5 separate regions of the Homo sapiens genome follow, and all the other regions are linked to region 1. The links come from fine-mapping of genetic effects on gene expression. A gene starts in region 1. Each other region holds a variant in brackets. All regions are shown on one strand. Distances are from middle to middle. Region 1 holds the start of CD9 (CD9 molecule). Region 2 overlaps VWF (von Willebrand factor). Region 3 holds the start of LOC124902866 (a long non-coding RNA gene). Region 4 has its middle 14 kb from the start of VWF. Region 5 overlaps ANO2 (anoctamin 2).

What was found. PIP is the estimated chance that this variant, and not a neighbour inherited with it, causes the effect.
Region 2: its variant is fine-mapped to the expression of CD9 in whole blood (TOPMed, PIP above 0.99).
Region 3: its variant is fine-mapped to the expression of CD9 in whole blood (TOPMed, PIP 0.99).
Region 4: its variant is fine-mapped to the expression of CD9 in whole blood (TOPMed, PIP above 0.99). The same link has a PIP of 0.9 or more in T cells, blood mononuclear cells and monocytes.
Region 5: its variant is fine-mapped to the expression of CD9 in whole blood (TOPMed, PIP 0.98).

What each region holds. Positions count from the first base shown.
Region 1 is chr12:6,197,167-6,203,226 of GRCh38, reverse strand. CD9 (CD9 molecule) reads right to left here and starts at 2,827. Exons shown (of 8, transcript NM_001769.4): 1 at 2,662-2,827. The coding sequence starts at 2,727. RefSeq lists enhancers at 280-891, 892-1,504, 2,731-3,342, 3,343-3,955.
Region 2 is chr12:6,081,736-6,085,735 of GRCh38, reverse strand. The region is part of intron 6 of VWF (von Willebrand factor); the gene reads left to right. Among named protein-coding and RNA genes, the nearest start is that of VWF, 41 kb to the left of the region's middle. RefSeq lists enhancers at 1,403-2,147, 2,148-2,894. The variant A/T (reference allele first, on the strand shown) is at 2,383.
Region 3 is chr12:6,164,406-6,170,465 of GRCh38, reverse strand. It overlaps LOC124902866 (a long non-coding RNA gene), which reads left to right and starts at 855. Exons shown (of 2, transcript XR_007063189.1): 1 at 855-2,318. LOC105369623 (a long non-coding RNA gene) reads left to right here. Exons shown (of 3, transcript XR_931588.3): 3 at 536-632. RefSeq lists enhancers at 2,349-2,643, 2,376-2,655. The variant C/T (reference allele first, on the strand shown) is at 2,571.
Region 4 is chr12:6,135,941-6,142,000 of GRCh38, reverse strand. No RefSeq gene overlaps it. Among named protein-coding and RNA genes, the nearest start is that of VWF, 14 kb to the right of the region's middle. The variant T/C (reference allele first, on the strand shown) is at 2,582.
Region 5 is chr12:5,874,972-5,881,031 of GRCh38, reverse strand. The region is part of intron 3 of ANO2 (anoctamin 2); the gene reads left to right. Among named protein-coding and RNA genes, the nearest start is that of ANO2, 67 kb to the left of the region's middle. The variant G/A (reference allele first, on the strand shown) is at 2,721.

The DNA.
Region 1 (6,060 bases):
CCTAGTTCTGAGACCACCCTGCCGCATCACCTTGGATAAGTCACCTAACCTCTCTGGGAAATGGTTTCCTGATCATCAGTACAGTGGGGACAATGCTTCCTGCTCTTGGCTACATCATGGGACTAGAACAAGAAAGGCTCTAAAGACTAACACTCTGCACAAGTGGACCGACCACAGTCTTCCTTTTCATTACATCATCTCCTAGGGATGAGGGCTTCATCTCCACAGGGACCCAGATACAGGACAAATGAACAGTAATTCAGGAAAACATAGCTACTGCCCATCTTCCTGCCTCTGATGAAGATGGAAGAGGACAGAAGTAAAGTAGGGGCCCCAGGAATTGTAATACTGGCTCTGTCTCTGCGATCCTGGGTAAATCACCCCATCTCTCTTCCTCTGCTGCCTCACTATGAATAAGAGAGCTGGACTGCATGATCTTCAAAAGTCATTCCAAACATTTCCAGTGTGAGTGATTTCTGTTTCAGACTACATAGGTCATCAGCTGCACCTAGGCTGGGGCCAGGCATAGGGGGTTCTGAATACGAGTGGGGTGGCAGGCTGAGGACAGTACGGACAGATTGCAGGCCAGCAGGCCACAGACAGAGTAGATACCAGTGGCCCTGTGAGCCTCGCATCAGCTTCCTGCATATGCCATGGGGCAGATGGGGGTAGGGAGGCACACTGTGGCAGTCTGTGTTTCCCTGCAGTCCCAAACCTGGATGCAGTCTAGGCAGACAGCTGAGGACTAACCAACACACCAGCCGGGAGAGACTGTACCTGGGAGGGGAGAGGAAAACTCCCAAAGTTCAAGGGTGGGTGAGGCCAGCTGCCTTCCCGCATACTTTTCTGCTGCCAGGGATTGGTGAAAGAAAGAAGCTAAGCGTGGCAGCTGGGTGGTTGCTGGGGTGGGTGGCAACACAGGAGGAGGGGTGCCCACGGCCAGCAGGGTCTTTTTAAAGCAAGTCAAGGGTTGGGAAGGAGCACACCTATATGCCGTCCTCACTGGGGTGTGTGTTATGGTGACTGATGCACTGGGGGAAGTCAGTCTCTGCAAATTGGAAAAACTGTTCAACCACCCCTTCAGCTCTGGGGAGGAGTGAATCTTAGAAGATTTCCCTAAGGAGGCTTGTGGGGACCTCAGTGACCAGCTCCAGGGGGAATAAGTGCATTTGTTTCTTTTCTACTTTTTTTGAGACAGGGCTCACTAGGTCACCCAGGCTAAGTGCAGTGGTGCAATCATGACTCACCGCAGCCTTGACCTCCCAGGCTCATGCCATCCTCTCATCTCAGCCTCCTGAGTAGCTGCGATCACAGGTGCATGCCAACACGCCCAGCTAATTTTTTATTTTTTTGTGGAGATGGGGGTCTCACTATGTTACCCAGGCTGGTCTTGAACCTGGATGAAAGCGATCCTCCTGCCTCAGCCTCCCAAAGTGCTGGGATTACAGGCATGAGCCACTGTGCCTGGCCAAGTGCACTTTTTTGTTACAAGACTCTGGTGGCATGCACCTGTTTCTACATCCATCTATCTTGAGAGTGGCATAGAGACTCTCTTCCTGCCTGCAGAGCGGCAAGTATTGTCATGTGTGTGCAGGGAATGTGGCTATAGAAACAAGGACACAAGGGTTTCCTATTCCTTGCTTCTGTCGCCTCTCAGCCTTCCCATTTGTAGAGGCTGAGTGGCCTGCAGCAGGTGTCTCTGGAGCTCCTGGCCCCGCTGGCCTCTCCAGATGAACGTCCGCTCTGCGCCCTGCCTGGCCTTGGGTGGGCCGCCTGGGCTGGCGGGGAGGGGAGAGGGCAAGGCCAAGGCTCTCCTGGGCGGGCAGCTGGCTGGCACCTGATCTCTCCCGGAAATGCACACACAGGACTCATCCCACTAGAGGCGCAGATAGGTATCTGCCCCCTCCTCTCCCGAACTCTGAGTTCTCTCCAGTGAAGATACTTATCGTCCTTGAAAGAAATCAAGACAAGCTAGTCTTTCAGGGAGCTACCAGGGAGTTCGGCGCTCTCACGGTGGCTCAGAATCAAAGTCTGAGGGAACGGGGGCCTGCGAGGTTCCTCCTCAAGGGTGGAGGGGCCCCCGACTCTCAGGGACTGGGTCCCGGGGCCGGACCCGCGGCCGAGGCACCCCTGCCGCTCCTGCGTAAAAGTGAGAGCCGCTCTTGGCTGAGCTCTCGCCGTGCCCGCACCCTCCCTTCCTGGCGCCCCCTACTACCTGGGAGACCCCACCCGGTCACAAGCCATACTGCTCACCACAGTCCTCCTTGGCCTTGGCCCAAAGAGGGGTGCTCCGCTTCTCCCTGCCTTCCTCTCTGGCACTCGGAGGGACTTGAGCTGGGAGCAGACACACACCCCAGCTCAAATCCTAGGCGAGCTAAAGTGCTCAGGACCCTCCCGCACGCCTCATCTCAAGAGGGCCCGGCTCCCCACGCCGGCTGGGCGGTGATGAGCCCCCACCCGAATGCGCCCGTCGCGGCCGTCCCGCCCGGCTCTGGACCCGGCCTTGGAGCCAGCTGGCAGCCGCAGGGCGCTCTCTCTTCCCGCCCGGTGCCTGCCCGGTGCGGGCAGTGCCAGCTGCCGGCACTCGCGGCCGCGGCCAGTGTCCGGGGCCCGCGAACAGGTGGGCCCTGAGAGGAGCGCGCGGCAGTCGCGCTCACTCACCCAGAAGATGAAGTTAAATCCGAACAGCAGGTATTTGATGCACTTGGTGCCTCCTTTGACCGGCATGGTGAGGGCTAACTTAGCCTGGGCCGAACGGGTGCGGGACTGGGGGGCGCGCGCAGCTGGGACTGGCGGGACCTGGCGCTGGATACAGATGCAGGCGGCTGTAGGCTGGTCTCCGGCTGCACTTTTAAAAAGTGCCACTCCTTAGGGCGCGCGACCCGCTGCGGTGCGCATGTGCCGGGAAAAGCCGCCCCCACTCCCCCCGCCGGCCACGCCTCCCGCCCCACCGGCCCCGCCCGGGCCGCACCCCCCCCGCCCCCCGCCCCCGCCCAGGTCGGCGAGCCCCGGCCCCAGCTGCCCCGCGGAGCCCGACCCTCTCCCTGTTTCCCCGCCTAGTCGCCCTAACCCCCACCCGCCACCCACTCCTTCTTCAAGCCGTCTTGGGGTCTTTGCAGGCAGCCACTCCCTGCCACTTTTACCGCGGACTTACGTGGAGGCCTCGCCCTTCCGGTTCCCCCGCGTTTGGTCTGGGCGCCGGACCGGGCGTTCTGCTTTGGGAGACTCTTCCCCGGGTCGTCAGGGCTAAAGGCCCCTTGGCCAAGGCCTGCTGCCAGAGTGAGGGGCCCTTCTGCTTTGCGAGGATTTAAAGGGAAGCCGCCTGGCTTAATTTCGCCCTCGTCTGTCTCCTTGCAAACCTTCGCTCGCTGACCATACTTTTCATTGGGCACAGCATGTGGGGTAGGAGGAATTAGAAGCGCGCAGTCTGGGTGGGATGACAGATGGGAGGCTTTTGGAAGTAATTAGCAAATACCTATCACCGAATAATAACACAGCTGAGGGCTGGGCAGTCCCCAAGCGCTTCCTGCACTTGAGGTTTAGTTGCCCCAGAGGGAAAAAGGGTCTGTAGACGGCTTCTGTTTTCTCTCTACTCCTCCACCCCACCCTCCCTCCTGCGTCTTTGGACTTGCTCGCTGCTGCCTTGAACTGCTCCAGATGCCGAGCTCGGAGCGCTTCTCCTGAGCTCACAAACTTTCTGTAGCTCTCCAGATTCAAGGACCTAAGTCGAAATTCCTCGTCTTGCCCTCAAGGCCCTGTACAGAGCACTGATCTGACTTCTCCCGGACCCAGAGCCCACCCCACTCGCTGGCCGGCATGCGCCCTGGCTGGCTGGCCCCCCCCCAACGTCACTTGTAGGAATTCTGTGGGTCTTTAAACACTCCTTTCCTGATTCTCTGGAGTGGACGAGGAGAGTCACCTTCTTTTGAAGTCCCCGAATCCCTTTGTATTATTTTCAAAATGAAGTTTCCTTTACTGTCCTTTATGATTACAAAAGCAAGATACAGTCATTACAGAAACAACCGAAATACCAAGAAGTGAAAGGAACAGACCTCAAAATTCTGCTCACCAGAAACAGCCACTGTTAGCACATTGCTGTTATTTGCCTGTTTATTATCAGTAGACTTGTCTCATTGGTTCAAAAACATTTTTCAGTATCTATTAGGGTATTTCATTAGGGGTAGGAGCTGAAAAACATGGATTAGTCCTTGTTTCTGCTCAGGGACCAGTGTGGGAGGAGACAGGCAGCCAGACAATGGTTTGAGGGTGATAGGTGCAGTTACGGGGAGAGGCTTGGGGGCTAAGAGGCTAAGGAGAGGCCTCTGACCCAGACTGGGAGATGATGCTGCAGAACCACAGGGAAAGTTGCCGCCAAGGGAGAATCCTGGGCAAAGGCTGGGGCAGGGGCTGTCCGGGCTCTGGGCTGGAGCCTGGAGTCACGGGGTAGTTTGTGGGAAGGTGAGAAAGAGCCTTGTGCTCCTGGACTTTGCACTCTGAGCATTAGGGGCCACCGAAAGGTTCAAGCAGGGGAATGGTTGGATCTGCTGTGTTTTCAGAGGTTCTCTGCCTGTGTTTTAGGTAGTTGGGTGGGGGAAGGCCGGAGGGGCAGGTAGGAAGCCCCTTGAGGACCAGGACCATTGTTGGCATCTCCAGTCCTTGGCTCAGTGCTTTACGGGATTGCATGGAACATGGAGATGTTGTATTTGGGGAGACGCAATCAGGTAATATGAGGGGAGCAGTGGTAGATGAAAGTTGAGCTGAGGACCAGGTGCAAATCTGCTAGGAGGCTGTGGAGTAGTTCAGGTGAGAGAAGAATGAATGAAGGCGGGGCAATGGGATAAAGCCTAGAGAAGGCAGGGCAAAACCCCATGAGGTGTCAGGCCGGGAAGGGGAGGGAGAGATCAGAGGCAGAGCAGCAGAAGCTAGTAACAAGTAGGGGCACAGGGCACATCCCCACGTCAATCTGAGTCCGAGAGGCTCCCCAGAGCAGGGGACATTGCAGCAGCTGACTTGACTTGGGAAGGTGGAGTCAGTAGTCAATGCGGAGGAGGGAATTCCAAGAGGGAACTGGATATGCAAAGACACAGAAGCGGGCAGCTGGCTGCACTGGGGAAACAACCGATAGTGGTACATGGGGAGGAAGGAGGACAAGGAAGGAGAGGCAGGGCCTAAACTGAGCCTAATGCCAAGAGGACAAGCAGAGGAATTTTGGTGATGCTTGACTTTACACATCCTAACCAGTGTCCAGGATGATTCCAGCACAGGGGAGGAGTGTGAAGCACCCTGGAGGGTGGGAAGGAGGCCGGAAAACAGTCAGTGTTCCATTGTGCCCTTTTGGGCCTGCGTCCATCTATCTTGGGAGACAGGTCTTAGGAAAAGAAAGATTTTATTGCATCTCCCCCTTCTCCCAAGTTAACAAGTACTGGTGGGAGGAGTTCAGTAAATATTTAAGTTTATAATAGAAATTACTTATTAGGGTAAACGTGAGTGTTGACAGAGGAAATCCACAGGGAGGCCTTAGAACCTGCCTGCCACAGAAGCGCTGCAGAAACGCTGCCTGTTGCTCCTATTCCTATTATTGTTTACACTGAAGAAAGAATTGGGGTCAGCCTATATAGTTCAGTGCCACATTCGTATAATCAAGGCATCCTTTTTATGTGATGAGAGCATTGGGCCTGAAGTGAGGGGGTCTGAGTTCTACTCTTGGTTCTGACCCTTTGGTCTATGTTAGGCAGGCAGCCTCCTCTCTGGGCCTCAGTCTCCTCACCTGTACAAGAGTATTGTGAAAGGAAAATAAATCTTAGGACCCCAAAATCAATAAGCCAAAGGAAAAAATCAAGCTGGGAACTGCCACAGGCAAACCTGCCTCCCATTCCTAAATAAGATAGCTACAAAGATTTTTTAAAAAGCTATGCACTTCTCGGCCGGGCGCAGTGGCTCACGCCTGTAATCCCAGCACTTTGGGAGGCCAAGGTGGGCGGATCACGAGGTGAGGAGATCGAGACCATCCTGGCCAACATAGTGAAACCGCATCTCTACTAAAAATACAAAAATTAGCCA
Region 2 (4,000 bases), 120 kb after region 1:
CCCCCCGCGCCCCCCCTCCCCGCCCACAGGCCGTGGTGTGTGATGTTCCCCTCCCTGTGTCCATGTGTTCTCATTGGAACTTGGCTTTTTATGTTGCTCATTTGACAAGCCCTTGAGGAGAGTTGGATAAGGACCTAGCACCCAAGCATTCAATTCAAAGGCCTCCCTAACATAATGTTCCCAAAATCCTTTAACGAACTATTTCTCAGGTGGGTTCCTTTCCCTTTTCCTTTTCCCTGGTGAGCAACAGAATGGACAAGAATCTGATGGTGCCCATAAGTGCATATTCACTGAGATGTTTCATATGGCTTGCGTGATACAACGTAGACTAAGGGACAAGACACGTAAGAGAAATTAAACCATGAAAGACTGTCTGGGGTTAGTAAATGACAAATCGCCAAGTGAATGGTAAGTGATAGCGCAGCTTAGGGGAATTAGCTCCTGTCACAGAGCTGATGCTTTTTTCTTGCTGGGAGCAGGATGGGTGAGTGATTCAGAAAGGGCTGCTTTCCATCCCCAGAGCTTGGTAGGCCCTAGACTGGGAACCAGGGAATGGTGCCCCGTCCTTGTCCATCCAGCCAGCATGCCCTAATCCCTAGAAGCTGCTCAGATGCCTCCAGGAGCCCCAAGGAGAAGGTGAGGAGGGTCCCTTAGAGAGGTCCATGGCCAAGTCTCCTACTTCTCATGAGCACTGGACCCCAGCTATCTTAGAGAGAGGAATGTCAAGCTCTGCAGAAACCATCCATTTGGTGGAAATCTATCAACAGGTTTCACCAGGTCCTTGTGAGTCAGAATCTTGGAATGCGGGTGGGAATCTTGGGCCGGCCAGAAGTTATAAATAGAATCAGCTACCCTCCCCCACCCATCATTACAGCTGACCAATGAGAAAGTATTCCCTGCTGCAGGGTGAATTCTTGAACCCACTACTTTGGAGCAGCTCAGACTCCAGGCGCCTCCATACCTACCAGGGGCTGCTGCAGGGCACCCATCCCAGAGCTAGAAAGATCAGGGCTTGTGGAACAATATTGCACTCTATGTATTAGACTTTCCTTTCTTTGTTCACTCAGTCCTAGGAATGTCCCCCTCCCTTCTCCTTTGTCAGCTGCTTGGGAGCAAACACAATAGCTAAGCTTCAGATCTCTGGCTCTGCTTTCTCTCCTCCTGCTGCCTGCCACTGAGATGTGCTTGCTTTCCCTCCTCCTCCCCTGCACCCGCCTGATGTCTCCAGGGAAGATGCCTGGTCTTCTTTAATGAACTGGAAATGTGATTAAGATGGGCCACAATTGGGCCTGCACACCAACCCAGGCATGGTGAGGTCATGGCTGGATGGGCTGGGGCAGCTGCTCTCCCGCAGCTCCTGGCACGGCCGACAGGAGTTGAAAGAAGACAGGAGTAGCTGATGCAGGGCCTTGGAGCCAGGGAGATGCTGGAAGTGTGCAAATTAGCTGGCCCTTGTTTTGCATCCCTGCCAGAATGGTTTAGCAGAGAACTGAGGAGCCAGTACCGATTGCAGGCAAATGAGAATAGTTATAAGCATTTGATTTCCTGGTGTCATCTCATTTGATTTCATTTTGCAGAAACCATCTAGGGTAGGTCCAAGTACTGCTGTCTGTGTCAGTTAGGAGTAGGTTCAGCTGTGAGTGACAGGACTTATACAATCTAAGTTTATTTATCTCTCATGTAAAGAAGTTTGGGGTAGGATGTCCAGGGCCATGCAAGATCTCATGGTGTTGGGATCCAGGGTCCCTCTGTCTTATTTCTCTGTTGTCCCCAGTGGGGGCTTCTACCTTGTGCACCAAAACGCCGGCTCAAGCTTCAGGCATCACAACTACATTCCCGCAGTAGAAAGAGAAGGGACTAAGGAAGAAGCAGTCCCTTATTTTGAGGACACTTGGTGGAGGTTGCACAAGACCCCTCTGCTTATAGCCTACTGGGTATTGCTTAGTCATATGGCTGCCCCCAGCTGCAAGGGAGGCTGAGAAATGGAATCTTATTCCTAGCAGCTCTGTGCCCCGTGGGGGTGGGAAATTGAAAACTGAGGATTCTGTGACTAAGAAGGGGAGAATAGCTCCTGGACAACTTTCAACCTCTTCCACTTTTCCCCTCTTTCACAGGTAGGGAAATGAGGATGCAGAGAGGCAAGATAATTTTCCTTTTCTTTTTTGTTTTTTGCGACGGAGTCTCGCTCTCTTGCCCAGGCTGGAGTGCCGTGGTGCAATCTTGGCTCACTGCAACCTCTGCCTCCCAGGCTCAAGTGATCCTCCCACCTCAGCCTCTCTAGTAGCTGAGACTACAGGCACGTGCCACCACGCCTGGCTAATTTTGGATATTTTTGTAGAGATAAGGTTTTGCCATATTGCTGGTCTCAAACTCCTGGACTCA[A/T]GTGATCTGCCCACTTTGGCCTCCAAAAGTGCTGGGATCAGGCCGGTTGCGGTGGCTCACGCCTGTAATCCCAGTACTTTGGGAGGCCGAGGTGGGTGGATCATGAGGTCAGAAGTTTGAGACTACCCTTCCAACATGGCAAAACCCCATCTCTACTAAAAATACAAGAGTGCTGGGATTACAGGTGTGAGCCACTGCACTTGGCCAAGATCATTTTCTTAAAGTCACACGCTTTGAAAGTGATGGGTTGCGAGAGGCAGAGGTTGCATTGAGCTGAGATCACGCCATTGCACTCCAGCCTGGGCAACAAGAGCGAGACTTCATCTAAAAAAAGAAAGTGATGGGTTGAGATTCTAGCCCAACCATGCTTCTAAAACCTGAGCTACAGCCACTGTATGACCCTGTCTTCTAATCTGATTGCTAGGAAACAGGAGTGGGAGGGCAGGATGGAAAACTGTAATTTGTGGTTTGGAATGGACTCAGGCACTCAGGGTTTGCACCCCATCACTAGTGTTAAAAGAAAAACCTGAGACAAATTAAATTTAACAGGGTTTACTTGAGCAAAGAATGATGCATGAACCAGGCAGCCCCCGAATCAGAACAGGCTCAGAGAGACTCTGGCCTGCCTCATGGTCAAAGAAGATTTATGGACAGAAAAAGACAAGTGACTTACAGAAACTGGAAGTGAGGTAGAGAAACAGTTGGATTGGCTACAGCGCAACATTTGCCTTATTAGAACGTAGTTTGAACAGTGGGCTGCCCCAAGAGGAGGTTACAGTGTGTTTACATCTCCAGTTAGGTTACAGTTCATTATGTAGGGAGAAACCTTTAGGCCTAACTTAAAATATGTAAGGAGGCAGCTTTCGGCTAAACTTAAAATTTAACGATTGTATAGCAGTTCTCCAACTGTTTAATCGCAGGGCCCCTGTATACTCTTAAAAAATAATGAAGGACTTTAAAGAGATTTTGTTTATGTGGGTCATAACTCTTGATACTTACCATATTAGATATTAAAACAAATTTAAAACATTTTTTGATTCATTTTAAAATAACAAGCTCATCATATTTAATGTAAAGAACATATTTTTAGGCCAGGCGCGGTGGCTCACGCCTGCAATCCCAGCACTTTGGGAGGCCTAGGCGGGCAGATCATGAGGTCAGGAGTTCGAGACCAGCCTGACCAACATGGTGGAACCCAGTCTCTACTAAAAATACAAAAATTAGCCGGGCGTGGTGGTGTGCACCTGTAATATCAGCTACTCAGGAGGCTGAGGCAAGAGAATTGCTTGAACCCTAGAGGCAGAGGTTGCAGTGAGCCGAGATTGTGCCACTGCACTCCAGCCTGGGCGACAGAGCGAGACTGCGTTTCAAAAAAAAAAACACCATATTTTTAAATAAAAAGAACGATAAATTCCAAGCCAAAAAATAATTTAGGGGAAAAATGACACTGTTTTACAGTTTTGCAAATCTCCTTGCTGTCTGGCTTCAGATACATCATCTGGACTCTCATATCTGCGTCTGCATTTAAATCTGTTGGGATATCTCATGTCTCATAGCCTCGGAAAACTGCACTGCACTCTGGTGAAAGAGTGAGAGAAAAAATTGCAAATAGCATCTT
Region 3 (6,060 bases), 33 kb after region 1:
TGCGCCCAGCTCTATTTTTCTATTTCTTTTTCATCCCTTTTCACCATTCCTAATGTCCCCTGTCATTAACATCTTACATTAGTGTGGTACATATGTCACTGTTAATGAACTAATATTATTAACTAAAGTGCACACTTTATTCAGCTTTCTTTTTTTTTTAACCTATTGCCCCCATTCTGTCCCAGGATCCCACCAGGATTCTATATTACATTTAGTCATCATGTCTCTGTAGGCTCCTCTTGGCTGTGACAGTTTCACAGACTTCCCTTGTTTTTGGTGATCTGGACTATTTTGAGAGGTGCTGGTCAGGATTTTGCAGAATGTCCTTTAACTGGGATGTGTCTCATGTTTTCCTCTTGAGTAGACTGGCGTTTGGGTTTTGGAGAGGGAGACCACAGAGGTAAGTGTCATTCTCATCCCATGATATCAAGGGCACTATCAACGTGACTTATGGCTGTTGGTGTTCACCTTGGTCACCTGTTTCTTTAGTGTAAAGCTATTCTTTTCTTTGCTCCCTTTCCATGATGTTCTGAAGAATCATTTTTTGAGCACCAAAAGAAGAAACTGGTGGCGGGGCGCAGTGGCTCACACCTGTAATCCCAGCACTTTGGGAGGCCGAGGCGGGCGGATCACCTGAGATCAGGCATTCGAGACCAACCTGGCCAACATGGTGAAACCCCATCTCTACTAAAAATACAAAAATTAGCCGGGCATGGTGGTGCATGCCTGAAATCCCAGCTACTCAGGAGGTTGAGGAGGGAGAATTGCTTGAACCTGGGGGGCGGAGGTTGCAGTCAGCCGAGATTGCACCACTGCCCTCCAGCCTGGGTGACAGTGAGACTCCATCTCAAAAAAAAAAAAAAAAAAAAAAAGAAGAAGAAGAAGAAGAAACTGGCAACTCTGGCAACTCTCCTAAGAGGGAGGAAGAGAGGAGAAAGGACAGGGCAGGGCGGTGACAAGTGTCCTGGAACGGAAAAAGAAAAAAGAAGAAAAAAATTGCACCTGTGTAGGAGGAGATGCTGGTGGCCCTTGGAGTGCCCATGTGAGAGAAGAGCCAGTTCCAGGATTCCAGTGAGAGCAGCCAGCTCAGCGTGGCTCAGCAGCGGGGGACAGCCGTCTAGGAATCCCTGCGGAGCACCCCAGAGAAGGAGCTTCACCTCGGGACCTGGGTCTCATTTTCAGGGACTTCATCTCCCTGAAAAGCAATGCTGCATCAGACACAGAGACGCCCCGACAGAACGGAAAACAATATGCACTGTTCAACATGAAACTCCCATTCATCTCACTGCTGCATGACTTTGCCTAAGAGTTCAGGATAAAGTAATGTTTGCAAATACATCCTGAAATTGCTTTTGTGGGTTAGCATCATTAGATTGCATTATGCTTTGGGATTAAAAGCGTTAACTTTGCCATGTAGCTATTTCAAATAGATCACAAGCTCTTTTTTTTTTTTTTTTGATGATCACCACTATACTAACGAGGATCAAATAGACCACAAGTTCTGCAACCCTGTTTAGATGTTTCTTCATTTCATAAAGTATAGGTACCAAGAATCTCAGTACCTCCTCCTCTCCCCCCAGACTTTCTCTTGTTATTCTGGGATCAAAGGGGCCTCATGTCCCCTCTGAGGGACCTTACCCCTATCAAGCAGGCTGGCAAGCGGGAGAACGGAGGCCTGAGAAGCTGCAACACAGCTACACTGAACTCCCCAGCCAAGCCATGTGCTTGCATCTGCCCGTCTACTCCAGAGTGTGAGCCAAACATCTGAGACTGTGAGAATTCGGAGAGCTGACCCCAGACGTTGGTTCCAGTGTTGGGAGGAACCTGGGAAAATCAAGGGATGCTTTGGTCCTGTCATTGTGACTGACAAGCAATTAGAGGTGAATATCTGTGAATATTTGGGGGTTTAGAATGTACCTGTTGAAATGAAATGCCCCTGGGATATGAAATAACTTTAGCTGTTGGCATCTAAGACAACAGAGGCAGCTGGACGTGGTGACTCACGCCTGTAATCCCAGCACTTTGGGAGGCCGAGGCGGGTGGATCACCTGAGATCACGAGTTTGAGACCAGCCTGACCAACATGGTGAAACCCCATCTCTACTAAATACAAAAAATTAGCCGGGCGTAGTGGCGCATGCCTGTAATTCCAGCTACTTGGGAGGCTGAGGCAGGAGAATTGCTTGAATCCGGGAGGCGGAGGTTACAGTGAGCCAAGATTGCACCATTGCACTCCAGCCTGGGCAACAAGAGTGAAACTCCATCTCCCCCCCCACCCCGCAAAAAAAGACAACAGAGGCGTTCAATCAGTCGGCCGCGGTGAGCAATGTCCCGTGAGAATGGGGCCCAAGACAGAAGTCTAGGAAAGGGTGTATGTGGGCGAGGTAGACACAGATAGGGGCTGTGGACGGAAGGACTCTAGGACCTGCTTGCAGTCTGTCATGAGTCTTTGGACTATTTATAGCTGGTGACCTCAGATGAGTCACCCCCATGATTCAGTTTCCCCATTTCTCTGAGATATGGAGACAGCAGCTGGTCAGGAAGGGACCCTTTCCCTCCTCTCCGCCTCTC[C/T]ACCGCCACCACTGCCGTCACCGGCACCCATGTTCTGCCCACACAGTAGCCCAGGATGCCAAGGGCTAAAGGCTTGACATAGACGACACCTAATGTAATCTCACAGCCCTGGGACACAGCTCTTGTTATTGCCTCCACTTTGCAGAAGGGAAAAGTGAGCCTTATAGAGGCTGAATAACATGCCTGATGTCTACACTGGGGATGGGTGGATGTGGGCTGGTGTTCGGGCCACCCTGACTCACACTTGGTTGGCCAGGGCTTCCACTGCTAAATCCATCTGGGTCAGGGGCTGGCAACATTTTCTTCATCAGGTAAATATTCTAGGCTTTGTGGGGCATATGATCTCTCTTCCTCTCACCCCAGATTTTCTCCTGTTACTCAACACTTTAAAAATGTAAAAACCATTCTTAGCTAGTGAGCTGCACATAGGAGTCTGCTGGCTGGATTTGGCCTGAAGGCCAGAGTTTAGTCACCTCTGATAACAGGAAAGCAAAAAATGCAAATTGCTGTGGGCTGTCATATCTCCCCAGATTTCAGAGGCGTTCTAAAACTCACTCAAAGAATCCTGGGCCCTGGAGGGTGGCAGGGCTACCTGTGCGGCCCAGGTGGATGTTAGTTTTACTGAGGACCTACTGGGGTGTGGGCACCACGGTGTCTCTCCCATGGCCACTATTCCTACGGGCAGTTACTGCCCCTCACACTTGTCCCTCTGTGTCCTACCCTCTGTGGGGGCTCACTGGGGGCCCAGCTTCTCCACCCTGTCACCATCCTGGCCTCACTTTCCTTTCTCCTGGGACTTCGGTTCTTGGTCAAGTGAGGCTGGACAGGCCCAGCTGTGGCCCCTGGCTGAGCTGCAGAGGAAGCTGAGAGGACCTGCTATCAGCTCCTTTTGGCCAGGCTGCCTCAGTGGCCAGCGTGGGGTGGGAGATGCTGAGGCAGAAATGGGGGAGAAGAGGTGGGAGCTCTGCAGCCGGAGGGAGGAGTTCCGTGGCCTGGGCAGGAAGCTGGGAAACCTCTGTTTCTTTCTTTCTTTGTTTTGTTTTTTTTTTTGAGACGGAGTCTCGCTCTATTGCCCAGGCTGGAGTGCAGTGGCACGATCTCAGCTCACTTCAAGCTCCGCCTCCCGAGTTCATGCCATTCTCCTGCCTCAGCCTCCCAAGTAGCTGGGACTACAGGCACCCGCCACCACGCCTGGCCAATTTTTTGTATTTTTTAGTAGAGACAGGGTTTCACTGTGTTAGCTGGGATGGTCTTGATTTCCTGACCTCGTGATCCACCTGCCTCGGCCTCCCAAAGTGCTGGGATTACAGGCGTGAGCCACCACGCTCGGCCACCTCTCTGTTTCTAAGGCTCCTCAGAGTTAAGGAGGTTTGTGAAAGGAGTAAACACAGGAATTCTGCTTGTGTGTGGGGCCTGCCTGTGCGTGTGTATCACATACAACCCATGCCTGTGTTCCTGTGGAGAGGGAGCATGGAAGGGGCCCGTGTTCTAGGCAATGCACAAAATAGTTAAACCAGGTCTGAAACTGGGATCAAGTCCCAACACCACCACTGACCAACCATGGGAACCAGGTCCAGGTCTTTAACCTCTTGGACACTCACTTTCCTCATCTGTAAAATGGAAATAGCAATATCTCAGCAGATTGCTGTAAAGCTTACAAAGTAACACGATTTATCGAATGCTTCCTACTGGGCAGGCACTATTCTAGGGGCTTTCTATATTCAGTTGATCCTCATCACTCATACATTCTGTATTTAAAGATTTGTCTACTCTGGCCGGGTGTGGTGGCTCATGCCTGTAATCCCAGAACTTTGGGAGGCCGAGGTGGGTGGATCACGAGGTCAGGAGATCAAGACTACCCTGGCTAACATGGTGAAACCCCGTCTCTACTAAAAATACAAAAAAAATTAGCCGGGCGTGTTGGCGGGCGCCTGTAGTCCCAGCTACTCGGGAGGCTGAGGCAGGAGAATGGTGTGAACATGGGAGGTGGAGCTTGCAGTGAGCCGAGATAGCACCGCTGCACTCCAGCCTGGGCAACTGAGCAAGACTCCATCTCAAAAAAATAAAAATAAAAAAATAAAAATTTGTCTACTCCATACAATTTACTTGTATTGCCAAAATCAATACTCACAGTGCTTGCATGGCCATCCATGAACACAGAGCAGAGAAAAATTTGGCAGGATGTGCACATTCCCAGCAGAGGGTGAACAAGGTGACAGTCTGCCTTCTTGTTTCAGCTCATACCACAAGCAAGTGTCCTTTTCAAGGTCTACTTGGTACCATGTGTTTTGCATTTTTCTGCTGCGTGTTGGTGATTCCACTGTTTAAAATGGTCCCAGCATCATGCTGAAGTGCTGTCCAGAGTTCCTAAGTGAGAGAAAGCTGTGATGTGTCATGTGGAGAAAATATGTCTAGTAGTTAAGCTTCGTGCAGGCATGAGTTATAGTGCTGTTGGCTATGAGTTCAATGTGAATTATTCAGCAATATATATTGAATAAGGTGTCGTTAGACAGAAACACACATAAGAAAAAGTTATGCATTGATTTGTTGATGAAAATGTGACCAGAGGCTCACAGGAACCTCCCCTTGTATCTCCCCTAGGAGCACTGGTTTGGCATTCACTAATTCAGTGTTTGCAGTGACTCCATAAAACACAGCCACTATGAATAATGAGAATTGACTGTATTGGCCAGGCACAGTAGCTCACACCTGTAATCCCAGCACTTTGGGAGGCCAAGGTAAGCAGATCACTTGAGGTCAGGAGTTTCAGACCAGCCTGGCCAACATGGTGAAACCCTGTCTCTACTAAAAATACAAAAAATTAGCTGGGTGTGGTGGTGGGCACCTGTAATCCCAGCTACTCGGGAGGTCGCAGTGAGCCGAGATTGCACCACTGCCCTCCAGCCTGGGCAACAAGAGCAAAAGTCCGTCTCCAAAAAAAAAAAAAAAAAAAAAAGAAGAAGAAGAAGAAGAAGAAAAGAAGACAAGAATTTACTGTATTAACTCATCTTTTGAAAATTTTATTTACTTATTTTTATTTTTTATTGTTTTGAGACAGAGTCTCGCTCTGTTGCTAGGCTGGAGTGCAGTGGTGCGATCTGGGCTTACTGCAACCTCTGCCTCCCGGGTTCAAGCGATTCTCCTGCCTCAGCCTTCTGAGTAGCTGGGACTACAGGCGCCTGCCACCACACTTGGCTCATTTTTTGTATTTTTAGTAGAGACGGGGTTTCACCATGTTGGCCAGGATGGTCTCGAACTCCAGACCTCGTGATCCACCCGCCTCGGCCTCTCAAAGTGCTGGGATTACAGGCGTGAGCCCATGCCCGGCCTATTTATTTACTTTGAGACAGAGTCTCACTATGTCACCCACGCTTGAGTGCAGTGGCACGATCTCAGCTCTTTGCAACCTCCGTCTCTCAGGTTCAAGCGATTCTCCTGCCTCAGCCTCCAGAGTAGCTGGGCCTACAGGCGCATGCCACCATGCCCGGCT
Region 4 (6,060 bases), 61 kb after region 1:
CAAGTAATTGAAAGTGGGTATATGTATGACTGTTGACCTGCCCCTGAGCTGGTGCTCTCAACACATTGCCTAGGGGTTAGCCCTGCTCTGCAGGAGTAGTCATAAAGTTGTCACACTGCTGCCTCCATAAAGCTGTTTTCTTCTACCACCAGCTGGCTCTTGAATTCTTTCCTGAGCAAAGCCAAGAATCTTCCAGGGCTAAGTCCCAATTTGGGAGCTTACTTGCCCTGCATCAGTGCAATCATAGCTCACTGCAGCCTGGAACTTCGGGGCTCAAGCAATCCTCCTGCCTGAGCCTCCTGAATAGCTAAGATGACAGATGTGTGCCACTACACCTGGCTAATTTTTTCTTTTTTTTGTAGACATGAGGTCTCACTTTGTTGCCTAGGCTGATCATTGTTTTTAAAATTTCTATCTTTACTGATTTTTATCTGCCTGACCTATGGATAATTGAGAAAGCCTTTTTGAAGTCAATTGTCAATTTATGTATTTTGAAGCTATTTTGTAAGATGCATATAAATTTGAGTTGCTGTAACTTTCTGCCTCTCAAATTAGAACCCCAGGTCTTGAGATAGTGATTCTGGGGTCAGGAATCCTGCTGTGCTACTACTGGGGCCAGGAATGCCACCAGATGTAATGGTCTGAGTTCTCTGTAGCTCGATAGCAGCAATAATGTGGTGTCATTGTTCCTGAGAACCAGGGAAGATGAGTCTGAAGCTGCACCATTCTTCTGACATTGTAGCGTGGGTGGGTCCTCTCTATTTTGATGATTGTGAAGGAAGTGAGCATGTTATTCTTGCACAAGATGTTTGTCTTTAGAAGAGAGGAAGTAGAGGAGGACAGCTTCCTCTCCGCTGGGGGCTACAGCTTTATGCTGGGAGCTGGTCGTCTGGCCTAAGAAATACTGCTGTGTTTATTTATTTGGCGCATACTGCCAAGAAAATTCTCTTTCCTGCAGAATTTACGTAAGAGAGATGCTACAAATATACAAAGAAAAGACAAAGATGGGTCCTCCTAGAAAACCTTTCCTCCCCTGAGGTTCTTTTGCTTTTGTACTAGTTACCTGGAGAACTTACTCCTCAGACAGGCAGAGGTCAATTTACCCATCCCCCTGCCTCTGAGCAGCCCTGCCCCATGCGCCCCCAGAGGTCACGCACCCTTCCCATTTGTACTTAATGCTGTTTACATCAGCCCAAGTTCTAATGGCTCTCATACTGTGGTCCTCAGGGATCCTTCTTCCTTGAGCCTCACAGCACTAATTGTCCTCTAACTTATTTGGCAAAGCTGCCTTGGGACACCCTCCATGAGGGCAAGGGAGCAGGTTGTGTGGCATGATATCTTGGCCTATATTAGTTTTCTATTGCTGCAGTGACAAATGACCACAAGCTTAGTGGCCTGAAACAACACAAATTTATCTTACAATTCGTAATTGTAAGAAGCTCGAATTGGATCAAAATCAAGGTGTGTTGGAAGAGCTGGATTCCTTCTGTAGGTTCTATGGGAGAACCTGTTCTTCGCCTCTATCCACTTCCAGGGGCACACATTCCTTGCCTCGTGGCCCCGCGTTGCATGACCTCTGCTCGCATCATCACATCTCCTTCCCTGATGCTGACCCTCCTGCTCCTCTTATAAAAACTCTTGTGATTATATCGGCCCAGCAGGATACTCTGGGGTAAGCCAGGATCATCTCCCCATCTCAAGACCCTTAACTTGCTCACATCTGCAAAATCCCTTTTGCCATGTAAGGTAGCATTCAGAGGTTTGAGATGGGATGTAGACATCTTTGGCTGTTCTTCTGCTACCGTAATGTGTTACGTGGTTGGCTGTATCTGCTCTTCTCTTGTCAAACCCATGGTCTCCTCCAGGCCCTCGTCTTCCCTGTCCGGGAAGGTTCCACCAACCACTAATGGATCTCCCTTTCTCCATCTGACCTCTCACAATACATGCCACTGCTGCCAGAGGGCCTCATCTGGTGTCACAGGATGAACATAAACCCCTACACTGGTTGAAGGTCCCTGAGGACTTGCCTCTTATTCCTCTCTTTGGTCTCTTTTCCTGTGAGTCTCCTTTATAGGCTGTAACAACTGGCTTATTCACCTACTTACTGATTTAGCATCTCAGAGCTTGCCTGCTTCTAAGCTTTTACTTCCTTCCTTGCAGCTGATGTGCCTTTGCCCTCATTTTCACCTGGCAAAATCCTACTCAGCAAATGGGTAATTAAACCATTGCAACCATTATAAACCATTGCAATTTTTCAGGGGGGCCATTTGGCCTTATTGTCAAAGGCCTCACTGAAAATGTGGACGGTGGCTGACCCAGTGCTCCACATGTAGGATTTCATCCTGTGGGAGTAATCCTGAGGGTTGTGCATGGATATAGCTTCAAAGATGTTCACTGCAGCATTGTTAATTAAAAAAAAAAAAAAGTAGGCCGGGAGTGGTGGCTCACGCCTGTAATCCCAGCACTTTGGGAGGCAGAGGCGGGCGGATCACGAGGTCAGGAGATTGAGGCCATCCTGGTTAACGCGGTGAAACCCTGTCTCTACTAAAAATACAAAAAATTAGCCGGGTGTAGTGGCGGG[T/C]GCCTGTAGTCCCAGCTACTCGGGAGGCTGAGGCAGGAGAATGGCATGAACCCAGGAGGTGGAGCTTGCAGTGAGCCGAGATTGCGCCACTGCACTCCAGCCTGGGTGACAGAGCGAGACTGCATCTCAAAAAAAAAAAAAAAAAAAAAAAAGTAGCACTAACCTAAATAAATATCCCATAATATGGAACTGGTTACATAAATTGTGGAATATCAGTAAGTGAACTATTCCAGCCAAGTGTGTTATACTCTGATAAAACAGACACTTGAGTGTTATTTAGAAATAGTGCCAGAGTGTCATATGAGTTACAGGCGCAGAATACCACATGGGAACGTGACCCCAGTCTGATGTCCCTGCCCCCTTGCAGAGCCATCCTGTGACTTTCACCGTGCAATTTCCCCAACCACAGTGACGAGTGCTATCTTCTGTGCTGATGATTTGGAGAGCAGGCAACAACTTCCTTGGGTATTAAGCAATTTTTTTTATCTGCAGTTTCAGTTCTGTAGCTACATTTTAATATTATATGCTAATTAACCCACATCATTGTTCTACTAGCAGGGAGTTCAACAGACATTTATGGAGCACTTACCATGTGCTATGCTCCAGACAGAGCACTTTGGAAGATACAGAGATGAGTAAGGCAAGGTCTTGTTCTAAGGAGAGCTCAGACTGGAGGAGATAAGACAAACAAAAATGCATGAAAAGGCTGGGAGCGGTGGCTCATGCCCATAATCCTAACACTTTGGGAGGACGAGGCGGGCAGATCACGAGGTCAGGAGATCAAGACCATCCTGGTAACACGGTGAAACCTCGTCTCTACTAAAAATATAAAAACAAAAAATTAGCTGAGTGTGGCGGTGGGCGTCTGTAGTCCCAGCTACTCGGGAGGCTGAGGTGGGAGAATGGCGTGAACCAGGGAGGCAGAGGTTGCAGTGAACCAAGATCGCGCCATTGCACTCCAGCCTGGGCAACAGAGCGAGACTCCGTCTCAAAAAAAAGAAAAATGCATGAAAAGATGAGAGGGCCACAGAAGCACCCAGAGGTGGTTCAAAGGCAGGAAAAGCGGGGGTGAAGGGTGGGAGGAAAGGAGAAAAGGCTTATGGAAGAGTTATAGGTATAGTGGAGAAAACACGGACTTTGTAATCAGGTAGATTCAGATGCTGGCTGCCTTTGGTAGCAGTGTGATCCTAGGCAAGGCCCTTACCCTGTCTGAGCCTCAGCATCCTCAACTATAAAATGAGAGTAACGCTCTCTTTCCCTCAAACGGTTGTTAGAAGGTACAGTGGATTGAATGGTGACCCCCAAAAGACATGTCCACATTCTAACTCCTGGACCCTGTGAATGTGACCTTACTTGGAAAAAGGCTTTTTGCAGATGTAATTAAGGATGTCAAGATAGATCACCCTAGATTACTAGATCCTTAGGCGGGGTGTGGTGGCTCACGCCTGTAATCCCAGCACTTTGGGAGGCCGAAGTGGGCAGATCACTTGAGGCCAGGAGTTTGAGACCAGACTGGCTAACATGGCAAAACCCTGTCTACTAAAAATACCAAAAAAAAAAAAAAAAAAAAAAAAGGCTGGGTGTGGTGGTGGTGCCTGTAATCCCAGCTACTCGGGAGGCTGAGGCAGGAGAATCACTTGAACCTCGGAGGTGAAGGCTGCAGTGAGTCAAGATTGTGCCACTGCAATCCAGCCTGGGTGATAGAGTGAGACTCCACCTTGACAAAAACAAAGAGGCTGGGTGCGGTGGCTCTCGCCTGTAATCCCAGCACTTTGGGAGGCTGAGGCGGGTGGATCACCTGAGGTCAGGAGTTCAAGACCAGTCTGGGCAACATGGTGAAACCCTGTCTCTACTAAAAATACAAAAATCCGCTGGGTGTGTTGGCACGTACCTGTAATCCTGGTTACCTGGAAGGCTGAGGCAAGAGAATCACTTGAGCCAGGTAGGCAGAGGTTGCAGTGAGCTGAGATTGCACCATTGCACTCCAGCCTGGGTGACAGTGAGACTCCGACTCAAACAAACAAAAAAACCAAAAAAAGATTACTAGGTCCTTCCAGATTACTTAGATTCAATGTCAGGTGTTCTTATAAGAAATATACAGTGGGAGACACACAGGGAGATGAGGAGAGAGCCATGTGAAGACAGAGGCTGAGATTAGAGTGATGCTGCCACAAGCCAAGGAAAGTCTGAAGCCACCAGAAGCTGGAAGAGGTGAGGAAGGTCTCTCCCTTACAGCCTTTGTGGACACCTTGATTTCAGACTTCTTCCTTTCAAAACTGTGGGAGAAGACATTTGTGCTGTTCTAAGCCACTCGGTTTGTGGTGATTTGTTACGGCAGCACTGGGACACTCACAGAGGAGGATGAAGTAACACAGTGTTCACAAGCAGCTAGCAGAGTATCTGGTACTTGCAAGGTGTTCACCAAATGACAAATTCTCCCTCTGCAGGAGGGGGACATGGAAGGATGAACAGGAGAGAGGAGGAGTGGGGAGGAGGCAGGACATTTGGATGGTGGAACAGTGTGAGCTGAACACAAGAGGTGTCTGGGAAGCAATGCCTCCGGGGACCAATCAGACATTCTGGGGTGCAGGGTGTGGGGTCAGGGTGGACGTGGGCGTGTGCTCAGCAAGGGTGCAGGAGGAAGGCACGTGTGCTGACTGTTGGATGGGAGGTTGGAGAAGAAGGGCCCACCGAAAGGGAAAGAGGCAGGCTGCTGGGGCTCCTCCTCGCCCTGGGGCCTTCCACCTGGGCTGCTCCTGCCTGGCCTCTAGTGCCTTGGTGCTCCTGGTGGAGCTGAAGCAGTGCTTGAGGCCATGCCAGAGGAAAGTCGCTGGGCTGCTGGTCATTAAAGGAGTCATAATGGGCTTGGGAAGAAGGAAGCAGCAAGTGGGATGGAGTGAAGATTTCAGATCCTTGAGTTTGTTTACTGAGCACCTGGTAACCCCCTGGATTCTTCTGTCAACCTGGCTATGAACATGTAATCAAGGATGGCAAGATAGATCATCCTAGATTACTAGATCCTTAGGTCAGGCATGGTGGCTCACACCTGTAATCCCAGCACTTTGGGAGGCCGAGGTGGGCGGATCACCTGAGATCAGGAGTTTGAGACCAGCTTGACCAACATAGTAAAACCCAGTCTTTATTAAAAAGTACAAAAGTTAGCTGGGTGTGGTGGCACATGCCTGTAATCTCAGCCACCTGGGAGGCTGAGGCAGGAGAATGGCGTGAACCTGGGAGGCGGAGCTTGCAGTGAGCCGAGATCTCGCCACCGCACTCCAGACTGGGTGACAGAGCAAGACTCCATATCAAAAAAAAAAAAAAAAAAAAGAAAAAGAAAAAGAACATGAGATGATTCCTCAAACTCCTGTACATCAAAAAACAAACAACAAAAAAAACCCTCATCAATATATATTAAAGTGAAGAACTGAAAAAAAAAATCCTCATATCAATGTGAGAAAACACTAACATTTTTAATCTTT
Region 5 (6,060 bases), 320 kb after region 1:
AAGAATCATCATAAATCCAGTCCATCATGAGGATAGTAGATTCATTTTGGGGTAGCCAATATAGTTGCGCTTCCATCCATCCACCCACCCATTCCACCCCTCAATCCACTCATCCATCCATCCATCCATCCCCCACCTACCCATCCACTCATCCACCCATCCACTCATCCATCTATCCACCCACCCACCCACCCATCTATCCATCCATCCACCCACCCATCTATTCATCCATCCACCTATCCATCTCTTCATCCATCTGTCCTTTCATCCATTCACCCATCATTTATCAAATATCTACTAAATTCTAGGAACACTCCTAATCTGCTCCTTATTATTTAATTTATTTTGGTATTTCTATTAATTGAGAAGATCCATTCAATCCTTGCTTGACTTGATTTTTCTATTGCATTTGAAACAGTTGACTCCTTCCTCCTGCTTGACATTTTCCCTCCCTTGGGTGTCCAGGAGCCCATGATTCTTTCCTGAATCTCCTCTGCCTCTATGGGCTTCCTCTTATTCTCTTTCATGTGTTCTTTCTTCCTTATCTGTCATTGAAGTATCAGTGTTCTCAGAGTTCTGTCTTCAGATGTTTTTCTCTCCTTTTTCCTTTCCTTTGCTCTTCTTACACACACTTTTCTGGGCAATTTCATACATTTATGTGGCCTAAGTTACTATCTAACTACCTACGATGACTCTCAAATGCTCTTCTTTAACCTGCACTTATCCTGCGTTCCCCAGGCTCTTATGTCTGTCTCCTGAACATAAATGCCTGGATTTATGTTTTGGAAACATCTCAAGTTTAAGGTCTTCATAAAAAAACTCAGTATCTTCTCTGTAAAACCTGCGACTTCTTTATTCCTTGTCTTGCTGGTTGTCTTAACCATTCTCCCTGTCAACTACAACAGAATCTGGAAGCCTCCTTAGATTCTCTCTCCTCTCGTGTTCTGGTGGACACCAGGTCATGTCAATTCCATTTCCCGTATCTGTTTCTACCTTACCTTCCCCATTGCCACAATCTAATTCCAGCACTCACTATCTACCCTTGTGTGATTGAACTTCTTTCTAGATTTGCCCCTCCAAACCATCTTCATGCTCTATCAGAGTGATCTTTCCAAATGCAAATCTGATTAAGCCATTTCCTCATTAAAATCTTTCAATGGCTTCTAAGCACCTCAGAACGAGTTCACACTTCTTAAGCATGTTGTCCCAGGCTTTCACAATTAGTCTCTTGGCTACCTCTTTGCTTTTACTTGACCCCAAATGCACACCCTAGGCTGGAGTCAAACCAAACCACTTGTCATGCTGCTTCTTGCCTTCAGCCCCTGCCCCTGCTCCTCTCTCCATCTGAAATGCTCTTTCTTCTCTTAATATGTTGGTCTTAGCTCAAGCATTGTCTCTTCTATGAAGTCTTCTTTGACCCCTTAGGTTTCCTCTTCCCCACTTGTATTGCACCCTGCAAATATTGTAATAATTTGTTTTCATGTCTGTTTCCCTCCTAGATATTGAGCTTCTTGACAATGAGAATAGTGTCTTTTGTCCTGGTAACCCTAGTGCTTCACACAGGTCTTGTATCGAGAGAGAGAGCTTACTTAGCACGTGCTTATGACTATACCGTTCCCTAAGATTATTTTTCCTCTTCTGATCTGTATCTGAGCTATAATAACTTGTTTATTTAGACTTTTCCTTTTATCTTATCATGTCAGAAGTTCACCAAGAAACTGAAGGGCTTCTGAAATTGGCTTTGTTTCTTGGGCTTGAGTACAGTCCCTTCTTATTTACCTGCCTGCGGCTTCATCTGCTGATTATTGATGATTTGAAGAAAAAATTGTTTATGTGGAATCAGCTTCACGTGGCTCCTTAGCTCTGACCCTGCTTCTGCTTCCTTTCCCTTTTCCCCATCCTTATACCTGGGGAGCAGGAAATGCAGACAGCTTCAGTGTCAAGCCATGTTTTAAGTGGAGAAGGATGAAGAACACTGTCATGTTCTCGCAGGCCTTCCACACTTGTAGACGCACCAACTGTCCCACTTTTAGTGTTCCTGATGGTCAATTTCTCTTTCTTTCTTCAAACCAAATGTTAAGCCTGAGCAGGACATGATTAGCAATCTGCTTGAGGATAAAATGTTATAAGGTATGCGTTTGTTCCCTGCTCCATCTCCTATGGAAAACCACACCCTCAGTGAAGGTACTACTGGACAGTGTGTTTCTTCAGGGAGTCTCACATCTCAGTGCTGCCTTTCCTGGCATCTCTAAGTCACAACAGATCCTGTTTCCAGCAAGTTTGTATGGCCACATAAAATGCTGTGTAAATCAGTGTGGGAATGTGATGTTCCCAGTAATCTGTTGGCTCATTGAGGGATCGATGATCTCTAGCTTTATTGGTATTGGGTACTATGTTATTTGTTTGTCTATGTTATTTGTCTGTGTTTGTCTATGTTGTCTATGTTTGTCTATGTTATTTGAATCCAGCTTAAGAGAAAAATCAATAATGCCAATGTCAGGGGCATGCATCTATCTTATAATTAGTGAATCAATGAATTTATCAAGTGTTTTGGACATACTTGTTATGACCCAGGCATTGTGCCAGGGCTGGTAACACAGTGGGGGACAGAACTGGTGCCCGCCCAAGGGGGCAGCGTGGTATTATGGAAAAGCACTTAAGTGCTATAGACCTGAGCATGAATCTCGATTCCACCACTCCTTAATGTGTGATCCTCACCA[G/A]ATGAGTCAACCTCTCTGAGCCTCAGTTTCTTCATCTATAAAATGAAGATTATTCTACTTCCCTTACAGCATTATCGTAAGAATTGGAGATAAAATACATCACGCACAATCTGGTTTGTACAGTGCCTCACATTTAATAGACAGAGAGTCATAATTATTATTCCCATTCATAGTAGTGATTGTAGTAAAATGGAAAACCAGAACTTTGTGTGCCTTGGCTTACTGCAATAGCTGAAATTTATAGTGGTACATTCCCTGATAACAGACATGACTCTTAGTGCTGCATAGGTATTAATGCTTTAAACCAGGGGTCTCCAACCCCCCGGCCGTGGGCCGGTAGTGGAGGTGAGCTGCATGTGAACAAGTGAAGCTTCATCTGTATTTACAGCCACTCCCCATCACTCACATTACTGCCTGAGCTCCACCTCCTGTCAGATCAGCGGCGGCATTCGATTCTCATAGGAGGGTGAACCTTATTGTGAAATGCACATGCTAGGAATCTAGGTTGTGCGTTCCTTATGAGAATTTAACTAATGCCTGAAGATCTGAGGCGGAACAGTTTCATCCTGATCCCCCCACCCCAGGTCCATGCAAAAATGGTCTTCCAAGAAACTAGTCCCTGGTGCCAAAAAGGTTGGGGACCACTGCTTTAAACAAACATCTTATGAGCTAGATACTTTTATTATTTTGTAGCAGGGGAAACTGAGGCAGAGGAAAGTTAAATAGCTTGCCCAAGATCACATAATTGGTAATGGTTGGCTGGGGATGTGAGCCCAGCCTGGGCCCCTCATGTTATGTTCTTCTAGCCACCATATCACACTGCCTCTTCATGAAATGCTCAACCCAATCATATTTCTAAGTTGCTAACTCTCTTAAGACTCCCAGAACAACTACCTCAAATTTCTTGGCTTAAAACAATCAAAATCCAGAAGTCCAAAATGAAAGTGCCAGCAGGGTGGGTTCCTCCTGGAGGCTCTGAGGGAGAATCGTCACATGGCCGTCTCCTCGCTTCCTATGGCTACTGGCAGTCCTTCACTCCAATCTCTGCCTCCATCTTTACATTGCCTTCTTCTCTCTGTGTGTCTCTGTGTATCCTTTCCTCTACTTATAAGGACCTCAGTCATTAGGTTTAGGGCCACCTTAATCCACTATGACCTCATCTAAACAAATTCTATCTGCAAAACCTCTTCCATAAATAAGGTCACATTATGAGGTTCTGCATGGACATGAATTTTTCAGGGTAAGGGCGCTACTCAACCCACTTCAATAACCATTTGCTCTTTACTTTAAAGTGGGAATTGATGAAAGAATGTTTATTTACTGTCTTTTTTAAAAATTATACTTTAAGTTCTGGGATACATGTGCAGAATCTGCAGATTCGTTACATAGGTATACATGTGCCATGGTGGTTTGCTGCACCTATCAACCCGTCATCTACATTAGGTATTTCTCCTAATGCTATCCCTCCCCTAACCCCCTACCCCTGACAGGTCCCAGAGTGTGATGTTCCCCTCCCTGTGTCTATGTGTTCTCGTTGTTCAGCTCCCACTTATGAGTGAGAACATGCAGTGTTTAGTTTTCTGTTCCTGTGTTAGTTGGCTAAGAATGATGTTTCCAGCTTCATCCATGTCTCTGCAAACGATATTAACTCATCTTTTTTATGGCTGCATAGTGTTCCATGGTGTATATGTGCCACAATTTCTTTATCCAGTCTATCATTGATGGGCATTTGGGTTGGATCCAAATCTTTGCTATTGTGAATAGTGCTGCAATAAACATAAAAGTACATGTGTCTTTATAGTAGAATGGTTTGTAATCCTTTGCGTTTATACCCAGTAATAGGATTGCTGCGTCAAATGATGTTTCTGGTTCTAGATCCTTGAGGAATTGCCACACTGTCTTCCACAATGGTTGAACTAATTTACACTCCCACCAACAGTGTAAAAGCATTCATATTTCTCCACATCTGTTGGAATTATGTCCTAGAATATGATGCGGTTCTAAGAGCACTATTTTAATTACTTCATCTGCCTTTTTGGAATAAGACAGATGTGGAGAAATACGGTCTTATAAGAAGATGTGGAGAAATACTGTCTTATTCCAAAAAGGCAGGTGAAGTAATTAAAATAATGCTCTAAGAACCCCATCATATTCTAGGACTTAATTTCAATGGGTATTTGGGCCATGGCCAGAATAGCAGACTGAGGGGGATGCTTCCTTCCTCCTCAGCTGGGCTGGCCCTGCCCCTTGGCACCACAGCGACTAAGTCTGCAGTGGCAGTTTGAAGCCAGATACCATCCTTCTTCTCTCACATCTTTGCCCTGGCCTTCTCTCTACCCGGTAAAATACCTCAAGTTCCTTCATTCGTTTTTCATTGGCTATGGGCTTGAGTTCTTTAGCTTTCTCATCTCTCTTCTCTGAATGAGCTCTGATTTTCCTGACCTCTTGAAATGAACCAGTCATAGAGGGGCTGTTCCTCTCCGTCATTCTAGATGTAGCCTAGGACTTATCATCTTTTTCTAGTGGCCACGTTGTGCTGCTCACTGCAGTGATTTTGAACAATTCATAGCCTCTCTGAGCTCAGTCTGCTCTTGTGTATACTGGAGATCATTGCACTTAATCACAAGAATACTGAGAGAGCCAAGCGGCCTGATGTGTTTGATGGTGACCGTCACCGGTGCAGCATGATGAATGCGTTAGTGGTAGTTATTAGGCATCTGCTACAGGTTCAAGGTTAAAGAGCCTGGAAGCTCCCACAGATGGCTGCCTTCTTTGGTTGATCCCAGTCCTTGGAGGGCCATCAGTCGGGGATGGTTAGTGTGGGAGGAGATGGAGGAATGGATCCAGGAGCTGGAGTGTCTGGTCCAAACTTTTGATCAGTTCATGTGCCTTTTGATGTAGCAGGAAGGAGTACCCTTTAAGAGCAGTGCTGAGGCCAGCAGGCCAGCTTGCGTTCCCCTGCAATCTCTGGCAGGTATCATCCAAACTTGTGTGGGTGGATCTTCTTGCTGTGCTTCTTAGTATCTCATGGTCTGTCCTAGTGATGATCTCCTTAGGTTGTGAGACGTGAAACAGGTACTATCAGATCAGGGCATTAAGAGGACAAGCATTTATTGGACACCTATTATATATAAGGCACAGTATCAGACACTGGGGTTCAACAGGTAAAAGACACAGAGCTGGCCTTCAGGAAGTCCAGTATAGCAGACAGACATGTAAACAATTTCAGTGATGAGAGAGGGGCCAGGTGCAGATATGTCTATCAGTAAAGCCTGTCCTAGAGCAGGAGTTAGCAAACTGTGGCCTGCAAGCCAAATCCAGCTTCCCACCTACTTTTGTA